3 linked regions of the Homo sapiens genome follow. The protein of the gene in region 1 purifies or fractionates together with the protein of each later gene. This does not show direct contact. Each region holds a gene or a part of one and is shown on either strand. Other genes may lie near its edges. The genes, in order: CYP19A1, SGK3 and UGT1A7.

Region 1 (3,660 bases):
CACCAATTAGTCCATTAATTGCCTCCTCATCACTGTTGAATCTGCCCACAAGTGTGTGAATTGTTTAATCCCAGAACTCAGGTGGCTTTCTTCTCATCACCTAAGAGCTTACTCCCTGACTACTTTTCATTTTGAACAGACAATAGGTTTGCCATCTTTGGAGATGTCTTTTATCTTCAATCATGCTTAATGAGGGATAATAACCCTAGTGATCAGACACCCAACGCTGTGCACTGTCCCTGCTGAGGCTGGGGACTCAGCTGGACTCTCCTCAGTGCTAAGAAATCCTCACTCTCCCAAATAATCAGTATAACACTTGCCTCTGGCAGTATTGCAGGCTGGCCCACAAGCCAGAGCCAGGCCTGTCTTGACTGCCAGGAGGAGCTCTGGGCTGGGGTCCTTAGTTCATCACTGACCTTCTCTTCACTTTTCTGATTTACTCTGGTTAGATAAATCCAGCCTACTTTTAGTAAGTGACCTTGTTTTAAATTGCTCATCTGTGGCCAGTCACACATCCCTTGCTTTATCACATCGGCCTGATTAGCTTTGTCCCTAACAAGCCTGAGCTTTGGATTCAAAATAGCTGAGAAGTTGGTGCCCCCTAAAGGACACAAGAATTTTAAAGGTTGGCTCTTTATTACTAATAACTAGCAAATATTTCGTTGGGTTTGTTTTATGTTTGGAGTTTCTTACTCTCTTTTTAAAACTGATTAGCAAGTTCTTAAATGAAATGGACAGGCCAATATGATTAATGCAGTATGCAAAAGCCCCAGGGTCAGAGCAGAAAAATAGTGTTTGTCCTTTAAGTGCTTAAAATTTTTAAATATTAGTTTGTGAATAAAGAATATATAAATTACTTAATTTCTGCTTTAATTATAGAATGATGGAGGGGAAGGTAAGTAAAGCTAGAGTTTTCAAATATTTTAATTAGTAAGAATTTCATTCCTTCCTATAGCATAATTTTTCTATATATGACAAAATTTGAAACGTCAGACAAATTCCCCAGAATACAAATGGAAGCATCTGGATTTTTATTTATTTATTTATTTATTTTTGCTAGGGAGAGGCAAACATGTCCAAAACTTAGGATTATTTGATGAATATTATCTGGAATCAGATCAAGAGAATATTTAATAGTGTTTTTATTTGAAAATAGGTGGTTTTTCCTGAAATAAATATTAATAAGTTATTTATACAATAACTCTGCTTTTTTTTTTTTTTTTGAGATAGGATCTTGCTCTGTCACCTAGGTTGGAGTGCAATGGCTTGATCATGGCTCACTGCAGCCTCAACCTCCAGGGCTCGAGCTATCCTACTGCCTCAGCCCACCAAGTAGTTGGGACTACAGGCACACACTACCACACCTTATATATTATATATTATTATACAATAATAATCCTGTTCTAATTTCTTGACACTACCATTATTTCAGGGGCTTACTTTTAAAGCTTAAATAGGACTATGGAACACATCGCAGATGTGAGAGCTGGATTAATACTTAGCCCACAACCTAATACATTGAACCAGAGCAGCGCTTTTTTGGTCTAGAGTCCTCTGGGAATGTATTTCAACAGGCATTAACTGAACAACCTCATTAAGGCAAAAGTATCCTTTTAGGAGCCAAGTGTCAACTAGGAGATGGAGGAGCAAGTCTCTCCAACCTGAGAACCAATTGCAGATATTATAGTAACCACTTGCAATCTTTGAGGGTTATTTGTTCTGAAAACCTCCATAGTGGGAGAATTTGCAGCTGTGAAACAAAATTTCAGGAGACCAGAGGAGAGGGAGGACCAAAGTTGCAATTAATACATGAAATTTTGTATAAATATTAAGTTCACCAAGAAAGTAACAACAACATCTAAAATCAAGATAATACCAATGACATCTAATGCATCTTGAATTTGCATAATTGAGCATCATGCAAATTGCCCTGTCTCATGACTCATCACATCCTGTGTCGTGGGAGAACTCTGTGACCCTGGAGACTTTGATGAGTCATGATGGAAGGCAGAGCCCCAAAATAGCTTCCTTTACTACCACAGTGAACTTTGCATGCCAGTCCAGCCAGGCGCTGGCCAAGCTCAGGGCTAGAAGAAGTGCCCAAGGAGATATTTTTCAAGCCCTGACTGATACTCCACTGGAGGGGGCAGGCCTGATTAGAGACTGGAGTTGGGTGGTACTAGGCAAAACTGCTGGTTCCAAAATAGGAAAACAAGACTTTAGTAATTCCACAAACTTCTGATTCTGTGGCTCACTCTTGTAGTGGGTGGCACTTTGTGGAGTGAGGCTGGATGATACCTGGGAGGCTGGAGGTTCTTCTGGCTCTGGTGGTATGGAGGGTTCAGCTTCTTAGCAGCCTTGCAGCTCTGACTCCAGTAGTGGGTAGTATTTTGGTGAGGTTAGAGAAGAAAGAGAAGTAAGGAATGGTATATGGGTGTGTGTGTGTGTTTTCTATCTTTGGTGATGTTGAAACAGGGAGTCAGTAGGTAGAAATGATTCAACTGGAGAAGGATGTCCTCATGCTAACAGAAGTGCTTATTCAACCCGAATACTAGAAATCATGCACATTGCATTTGGAGCAACATGCATTTGCTAAGAGAGCTACCTCCTAGTCAAAATGTACCACCAGGAGTTCTCCTGACCCTTAAAAATTGACACCAAAGTTTCCTGTCTTTTCAGGTCCTCAAGTATGTTCCACATAATGAAGCACAATCATTACAGCTCTCGATTCGGCAGCAAACTTGGGCTGCAGTGCATCGGTATGCATGAGAAAGGCATCATATTTAACAACAATCCAGAGCTCTGGAAAACAACTCGACCCTTCTTTATGAAAGGTAAGCAGGTACTTAGTTAGCTACAATCTTTTTTGTCTATGAATGTGCCTTTTTTGAAATCATATTTTTAAAATATTTTATTTATTTATTTATTTATTTATTTATTGAGACAGGCTCTGACTCTATCACCCAGGCAGGAGTGACCTTGGCTCACGACCTTGGCTCACTGTAACCTCCGCCTCCCAGGCTCAGGCGATTCTCCCACCTCAGCCTCGCGAGTAGCTGGGACTACAGATGTGCACCACCATGCCTGGCTAATTTTTGTATTTTTTGTAGCGATGGGGTTTCGCCATATTTGAGACCAGGCTGGGCTCAAACTCACGGAGTCAAACGATTGACCTGCCTCGGCCTCCCAAAGTGCTGGGATTACAGGCATGAGCTATCATTCCTAGTCTGAAATCATATTTTGAATTCTACTGCAATAAAGGAGGAAGAGCTAACATTCATTATGCCTTTACTCTGTTGTAGCCATTGTTCTAAACACTTGAATGGCAGCCCCATGTGGTAAATGTTGTTATCTCCTACAATTCACAGAAAATGAGGTTAAGTAACTTGCCCAAGGTCCAAACATTAGTAAATGATAGCCCGGAATATAGCCCTGAAGCCTATATTTCTTAATCACCACAAATTCTTTTCTTCTTATTGATGTGCAAAGCAATTTTATAGGCAAAAGAAGAGATGTAGCTATATATTTAGAGTAATTTCAGTTAAGAATTTAGCATGTCACCCATATGTTTGATTTAAACACGGCCAAACAATGTGTTTGCTGAGTGCTTGACTGACAGCCCAGATGATTTAGCAGGAAGCAATTTGTGAATGAAATTAG
Region 2 (3,660 bases), on another chromosome or scaffold:
GGCATGCCCCTGTAATCCCAGATACTTGGGAGGCTGAGTCAGGAGAATCACTTGAACCTGGGAGGCGGAGGTTACAGTGAGTGGAGATCATGCCACTGCACTCCAGCATAGGCAACAAAGCGAGACTCCGTCTCAAAAAAAAACAAAAAACAAAAAAAGTCATATTTTAAAAGATAAGCTTTTTCTTTCCTACACAAAGGAAAGGAAAAGTGGCAAGCCTATAAAACTCCCTTAACTTTAAAAATTATGTATACTTTAATTTTTATTTTTACTTTTTTTGAGACAGAGTCTCACTGTGTTGCTCAGGCTGGAGTGTAGTAGAATGATCACGACTCACTGCAACCTTGACTTCCCAGGCTCTGATGCTTCTCCCACCTCAGCCTGCTGAGTAGCTTGGACTACAGGCATGCACCACCCCACCTAGCTTGCTTATTTATTTATTTATTTATTTATTTATTTATTTATTTATTTATAGTAGAGACAGGGTGTCGCCATGTTGCCTAGGCTGGTCTCAAACTCCTGAGCTCTAGTGATCTGCCCACCTCAGCCTCCCGAAGTGCTGGGATTTCCAGTGTGAGCCACTGTGCCTGGCGTCACTTTTTATTTTGTAAACTTCTGTATTGTTTGGATTTGTTACAACAAGCATATATTACTTTTGTAATTTTCACAAAAAGAGACTGAAAAGAAAAAAATGTCATTTTAATGTTTTAAGTCAGATTCATCTTATTTTATAAAAATACTGGTAACTAATATTTAAAAGGTAAAAACAAACCCACAAGGGTAAAATATTAGAGACCAGTCCTCTGGTGAATAAATTGGGTTTTTTTTTGTTTTTGTTTTTGTTTTTTAAAAAAGAACAGTAACATTTTACATGGTAATTCCCTCTTTGGAAAAATGTTTCTGGTGCTCTGGACACATTAATTCAAAAGGAAGTAGTTTTGTAGGTTACATATTACAACCTTGCAGATAGAACCTGAGTAGCATGATAATCTTCTTTCCTCTTATTCCCAGAGTACAGAAACCTGTACAGCTCATTTTTTTTCTCAAAAGTTGTTACTTTATTTATTTGAGATGGGGTCTCACTCTGTTGCCCAGGCTGGAGTGCAGTGGCGCAATCTCAGCTCACTGCATCCTCCGCCTCCCAGGTTTAACCGATTCTCATGCCTCAGTCTCCTGAGTAGATGAGACTACTGGCGTACACCACCATGCCCAGCTGGTTTTTTATTTTTTCAGTAGAGACGGTTTCACCATGTTGCCCAGGCTGGTCTTGAACTCCTGGCCTCAAGCAATCTGCCCACCTCAGCCCCCCAAAGTGCTGGGATTACAGGCGTGAGCCACCACGCCTGGTCTTTATTTTTACTTTAAACCTTTATAATTAGATGATTAACTAGCTAATGCTTGTGTTGAAGCTATACCCCAAGTCTTTTGGCTGTTGCGGTGGCATTTTTAATTCTGCAAAGTACAGTCATAATATTATCTCTGTCATAAGTACCTAAGAAACATTATCTTCAGGCCTCCATCTCTACTAGAAATCCCTTTGTTTCAGTGAGTTTATTCCCAAGTCTGAAATTAATGTTTGATCTGTCTTGAACTTCTATTTCCAATGATTCTGTCATTATGCCTATGATAAGGTTGGTGGTTTTCTCTAAAACAGGTACTACTACAAGTTGTATATAATTTAACAGCTGTCTACAAGGTGCTATTGAACAAACTGGCCCTAATTCATTCAGTGAACACTTATTAAGCTCTGTGATGTGTTCGGTTTTAGAATCTCTTTGCTTCAGGAAGCCACACTGCAGGTGTCTACACGTCCCAAGAGGTCCATACATTTTTTCAACTGACTGCTCCCTCAAGATTAAAGCCATTTTAACCCCATTTGCGCATAATTTGTTTACCACTAAGTTTATTTTGCTTTTTTTTTTTTCCAGCCTCCTTTTTATTGCCGAGATGTTGCTGAAATGTATGACAATATCCTTCACAAACCCCTAAGTTTGAGGCCAGGAGTGAGTCTTACAGCCTGGTCCATTCTGGAAGAACTCCTAGAAAAAGACAGGCAAAATCGACTTGGTGCCAAGGAAGACTTTGTATGTAACAGCTTTTCTAGCTCCAGCTTTATTTAAGCTTATTTAAAATTTGGAAATAAAGCTTTATTTTATATGGTATTTAATGGAATGAATACAATATGCGGAGAATAGCAACATGGAAAAAAAGCATACTTGTCTCCACAGTTTTCACCTGTATTTATATAAAACTATGTAGTATTTAAAGCACTTTCTGTTGCATACACTTTTGCCCTATCCACCACATACACTTTCGCACCCTATTATTTACTTGATTTTCATTTATTACAAATTCCCCTCCCCTTCTTTTTAAAAAGTGTTGTGTGGCATATTTTCACTACCTAAACTTTCTTTTGCTGTTTTTATTGCTAAATAATACTAACATTTTCATGAACTAATAACACAGAGACTAACCAACTAGTAAGCTTTTTGTTGAGGGTTTGGGACTATCTAAAGTCTAAATCATTTCCTTTAGCAGGAATTTGTTAAGTGCCTCCTGTCTGCATGAGGTAATGTCTTTTGCCTTGAACACTAAGTCACTTTTTTTTTTTTTTTTTTTTTTAAGAATTTGGTGAGACCTCCTTGAGATAATTAGGGAATCTGCATGTTTGTTTCAAATAAGGGTAATTAAATTTGTAGTGTAGTTACCGGCATTATGTTAGTGTGTCAGTAAATGCACAAAAATATTGAGGAATATGAACTTTTGAACTGCTTTCTCAGATATTCTTGGAGGCTGCTTATCAATTTTGAACTTGAGCTGTGAATAAAAGACTTTGCTGCTACTGCTTTACCCCTGCTCCCCAGTTCAGCTGGTAGCTCTGCCAACAACTTCCTTTCCGTTGTTCCAGACAGTCTTGCTAATATTTCACACCTCCTTGTCCCTTGGTCCATTTATTGAATTCATTGACAGAGATTGCAGCTCTAGATGAATCCAACTATCATCTCATGGGCTGCTGAACAGTGCTAAAGAAGGTAACAAACTGGGCATATTGGAAGCACTGTGAACCTCGTCTGTGCTTCCCCACTGTCTGGTAATACTCTTTGTTTCTCTGTGTAGCTTACTCTCTTCCTCTCTGTATTAACTATTTCACACCTTCTCTCCAGACTTCCCAGATTCCTTTTCTTCTTCTTCACTTTTAACAGATGATCTTGCCTTCTATTTTGTAAGGAAAATAGAACCATTAGAGTGGAGCTAACTTAGCTTCCTGCTATCAAATCCACAGACCTATATACACTTGCAGGATCCTGTCATTTTCTTCTTCGTATTGTAGTGGAAAAGGTCTGTTTCCACCTGTGCACTGTATCCTGTCCATTTGTAAGGAACCCTGTCCATGTTTGTTTGTTTTGCACAAATAACTGCTCCCCTTTTTTTCTGGTTCCTTCCAGTCAGTAATTAAATGTTATCAAATCTGTTGCTTCTTAAGCCAAAAAAACCCTCAGTCTTACTCTCCTGAGAGGTACTACTCTATCTCCTTCCCTTCTTAGCCAAACTTGTTGGAAGTTTTCTTTGTTCAGTCTCCCTTTCCCAAGCTCTTTCATTTCTCAATCTACCACAAAATAGCCAGTAGAATTGCTGGATACTACTTTTCCTCAACTTATG
Region 3 (2,610 bases), on another chromosome or scaffold:
TTTAGCATGAGGCAGGGTCTGTGCAGCCACTTAGTGCAAAATGGATTTCTGTTTATTCTGGACAGTGTTCATTGCCCAATCAGAACATCTCAATCCAAAACGGGTTAGGTGCTTCAACCCTTGGTGCTACAGGAATGAAGAGGAGATTGAAGAGGAGAGGGAAAAGGAGGAGGAAGTAGAAAAGAAAAGGGAGAAGAAAGAAAAAAAAAGGCACTCCTATTCAGGACTAATTATGATCGCTGTTGACTGATACAGTTTGGATATTTGTCCACACTCAGATCTCATGTTGAATTGTAATCCCCAGTGCTGGAGATGGGGCCTGGTGGGAGGTGTTTGGATCATGGGGTCGGATCCCTTGTGCTTTAGTGCTGTCTTCCTGATAGTGAGTTTTCATGAGTTATTGTGAGAGCCGGTCATTAAAAAGTGTGTGGCACCTTCCCCCCCAACTCTCTCTCGCTCCTGCTTTTGCCATGTGACATGCAAGCTCCCGCATTGCCTTCTGCCATGAGTAAAAGCTCCCTGAGGTTCCCCCGGCAGCCAAGTGATGTCAGCACTAAGCTTCCTGTACAGCCTGCAGAAACACGAGCCAATGAAACCTCTTTTCTTTATAAATTACCCAGTCTTGGGTATTTCTTTACAGCAATGCAAGAACAGCCTAATACACTGTCTTTAAACATATCTATAATGTTATTTGGAAACATTATTATAATGTAATATTAGTACTTGGCCATGAATCATGTTAAATATCATCTTCCTTTTACATAAACCTTAAGATGAATTTTCTTGGAACCTTCTTTTTTTTTTTTTTAAGTAAGACGGAGTCTCACTCTGTCGCCCAGGCTGGAGTGGAGTGGCACAATCTCAGCTCACTGCAACCTCCGCCTCTCAGGTTCAAGTGATTTTCCTGCCTCAGCCTCCCAAATAGCTGGGATTACAGGCATACACCACCATGCCTGGGTAATTTTTTTATATTTTTTTGGTAGAGATAAGGTTTCTTCATGTTGGTCAGGTTGGTTTCGAACTCCTAACCTCAAGTGATCCACCTGCCTCGGCCTCCCAAAGTGTTGGGACTACAGGCATGAGCCACCGTACCTGGCCAGAACTTTCATTCATTCATTCAATAGTAATTGAGCACCTATTATGGCCTGGTTGTCAGCATAAACTGATGTTTGAAAATTTTCCACTTCTTTTTATTTTGTGTAGGCACTATCCCCAGCTCAGAGTGTTGGAATCATGGAGATTCACAATCAGACAGGGATGGCTCAAAAATGAATAGATGAAAGTTAGTTAATAAGTTGAGCTCATTGATTTGTGTTTTTTTAAAAAATAATGTATTAGAGGACTTTCACCAAGTTGTTCTTAGGTTACAAGTAGTTATCTATACCACTGAAGAAAGAATCAAAATTATATCCATAATGTGAGCCTCAAGAAGGAGCTTCAACAGTGCAGGGAAAGAAGTCAGGTTTTAATGGTATTGATATGTGAGCAGGACATCCTGACATTGAGGTGGCCAGAAGAAGCCGCTGGAAGGAAGGAATGGGACCACACCACCCAACGCTCTGGGCACATGATGCTCAGGTTATGTGGACTTTTCATTTTTTTTTTTTTTTTTGAGACAGGGTCTCACTCTGTTGCCCAGGTTGCTGGAGTGCAGTGGCATGATCACGGCTCATAGCAGCCTCCAACTTCTGGGCTCAAGCAATCCTCCCGCCTTAGCCTCCAGAGTGGCTGGGACTACAGGCGTGTGCCATGGTGCCTAGCCAACATTGATCTTTTATCCAGTGCCACCACACACACATTAGCACCTCAAAGGTGGGAAGTCAGTCATCAGTCCTCCCCTGTTGTCCCTTGCTCAAGCTGGTGTGTCCCCGTGTTCCGTCTCCTCTCATCTGAACATGCTCCAGCTCTTCACATCTGTCTTCCTGACTGCTGCTTCTTTCTAAAGGAGGTAACCATGGGAGAAAGCAATGGACACTCTCATAAACACACGCACACACACACACACGCATATGAATGCACACGTGTGCACCCACACATGAGCACAGCCACATGCACAAACGCACACGCACATATGCACACAGTATCTATTGTCGGATGAAATCTACCACTGGCCACCACTTCTTCCCATAAGGTTCTAATAAGCCTATTACCAGTGAGCTTGACAGTAATATACTAACTTTAATCCAGAAATCATTTGCCCTTTGAATCGTTTTCAGGGCCACATTTGAGCAAATTTTCCTTTGCTCTTATTCTAAGACTTTGTCTGTGATATCTTATAGCTCCTTCATTCATAAACTCCATGGACAAAATTTCTCACAGGTTCCAGTGCTGCAAAAAGCTGTACTTCTAAGCATTTGAGTTGTTTTTCTCTTAAAGATACTATGCTTCTTATAATGGAGTATTTCTTTCTGTGCAGGAAACTTATGGATCAGATGTCTATTATGGCAACTTTTTATGTAAATTGGAGTTTTAAATCTAATGGGGGAAATAAAATTCTAAATAAATTATATGATAAATTATATAGAAACTAAAGAATCCTTTTATAAAGTGAATAATAACCTCTAAATTATCTTATTTATAAATCCAGGTCAGACGCGCTGGCTCATGCCT

What was found.
Region 2: the proteins of CYP19A1 (region 1) and SGK3 purify together in Homo sapiens (affinity purification with mass spectrometry, with the first as the bait; one large-scale study listed by BioGRID). This does not show direct contact.
Region 3: the proteins of CYP19A1 (region 1) and UGT1A7 purify together in Homo sapiens (affinity purification with mass spectrometry; one large-scale study listed by BioGRID and IntAct). This does not show direct contact.

The regions. Positions count from the first base shown.
Region 1 is NC_000015.10:51,226,953-51,230,612, reverse strand, and holds part of CYP19A1 (aromatase), read left to right. Parts: intron 1-2,679; coding exon 2,680-2,834; intron 2,835-3,660. UniProt on the Homo sapiens protein: A cytochrome P450 monooxygenase that catalyzes the conversion of C19 androgens, androst-4-ene-3,17-dione (androstenedione) and testosterone to the C18 estrogens, estrone and estradiol, respectively.
Region 2 is NC_000008.11:66,845,265-66,848,924, forward strand, and holds part of SGK3 (serine/threonine-protein kinase Sgk3), read left to right. Parts: intron 1-1,928; coding exon 1,929-2,084; intron 2,085-3,660. Other genes in the region: C8orf44-SGK3 (serine/threonine-protein kinase Sgk3), read left to right, coding at 1,929-2,084.
Region 3 is NC_000002.12:233,768,860-233,771,469, reverse strand, and holds part of UGT1A7 (UDP-glucuronosyltransferase 1A7 precursor), read right to left. Parts: intron 1-2,610.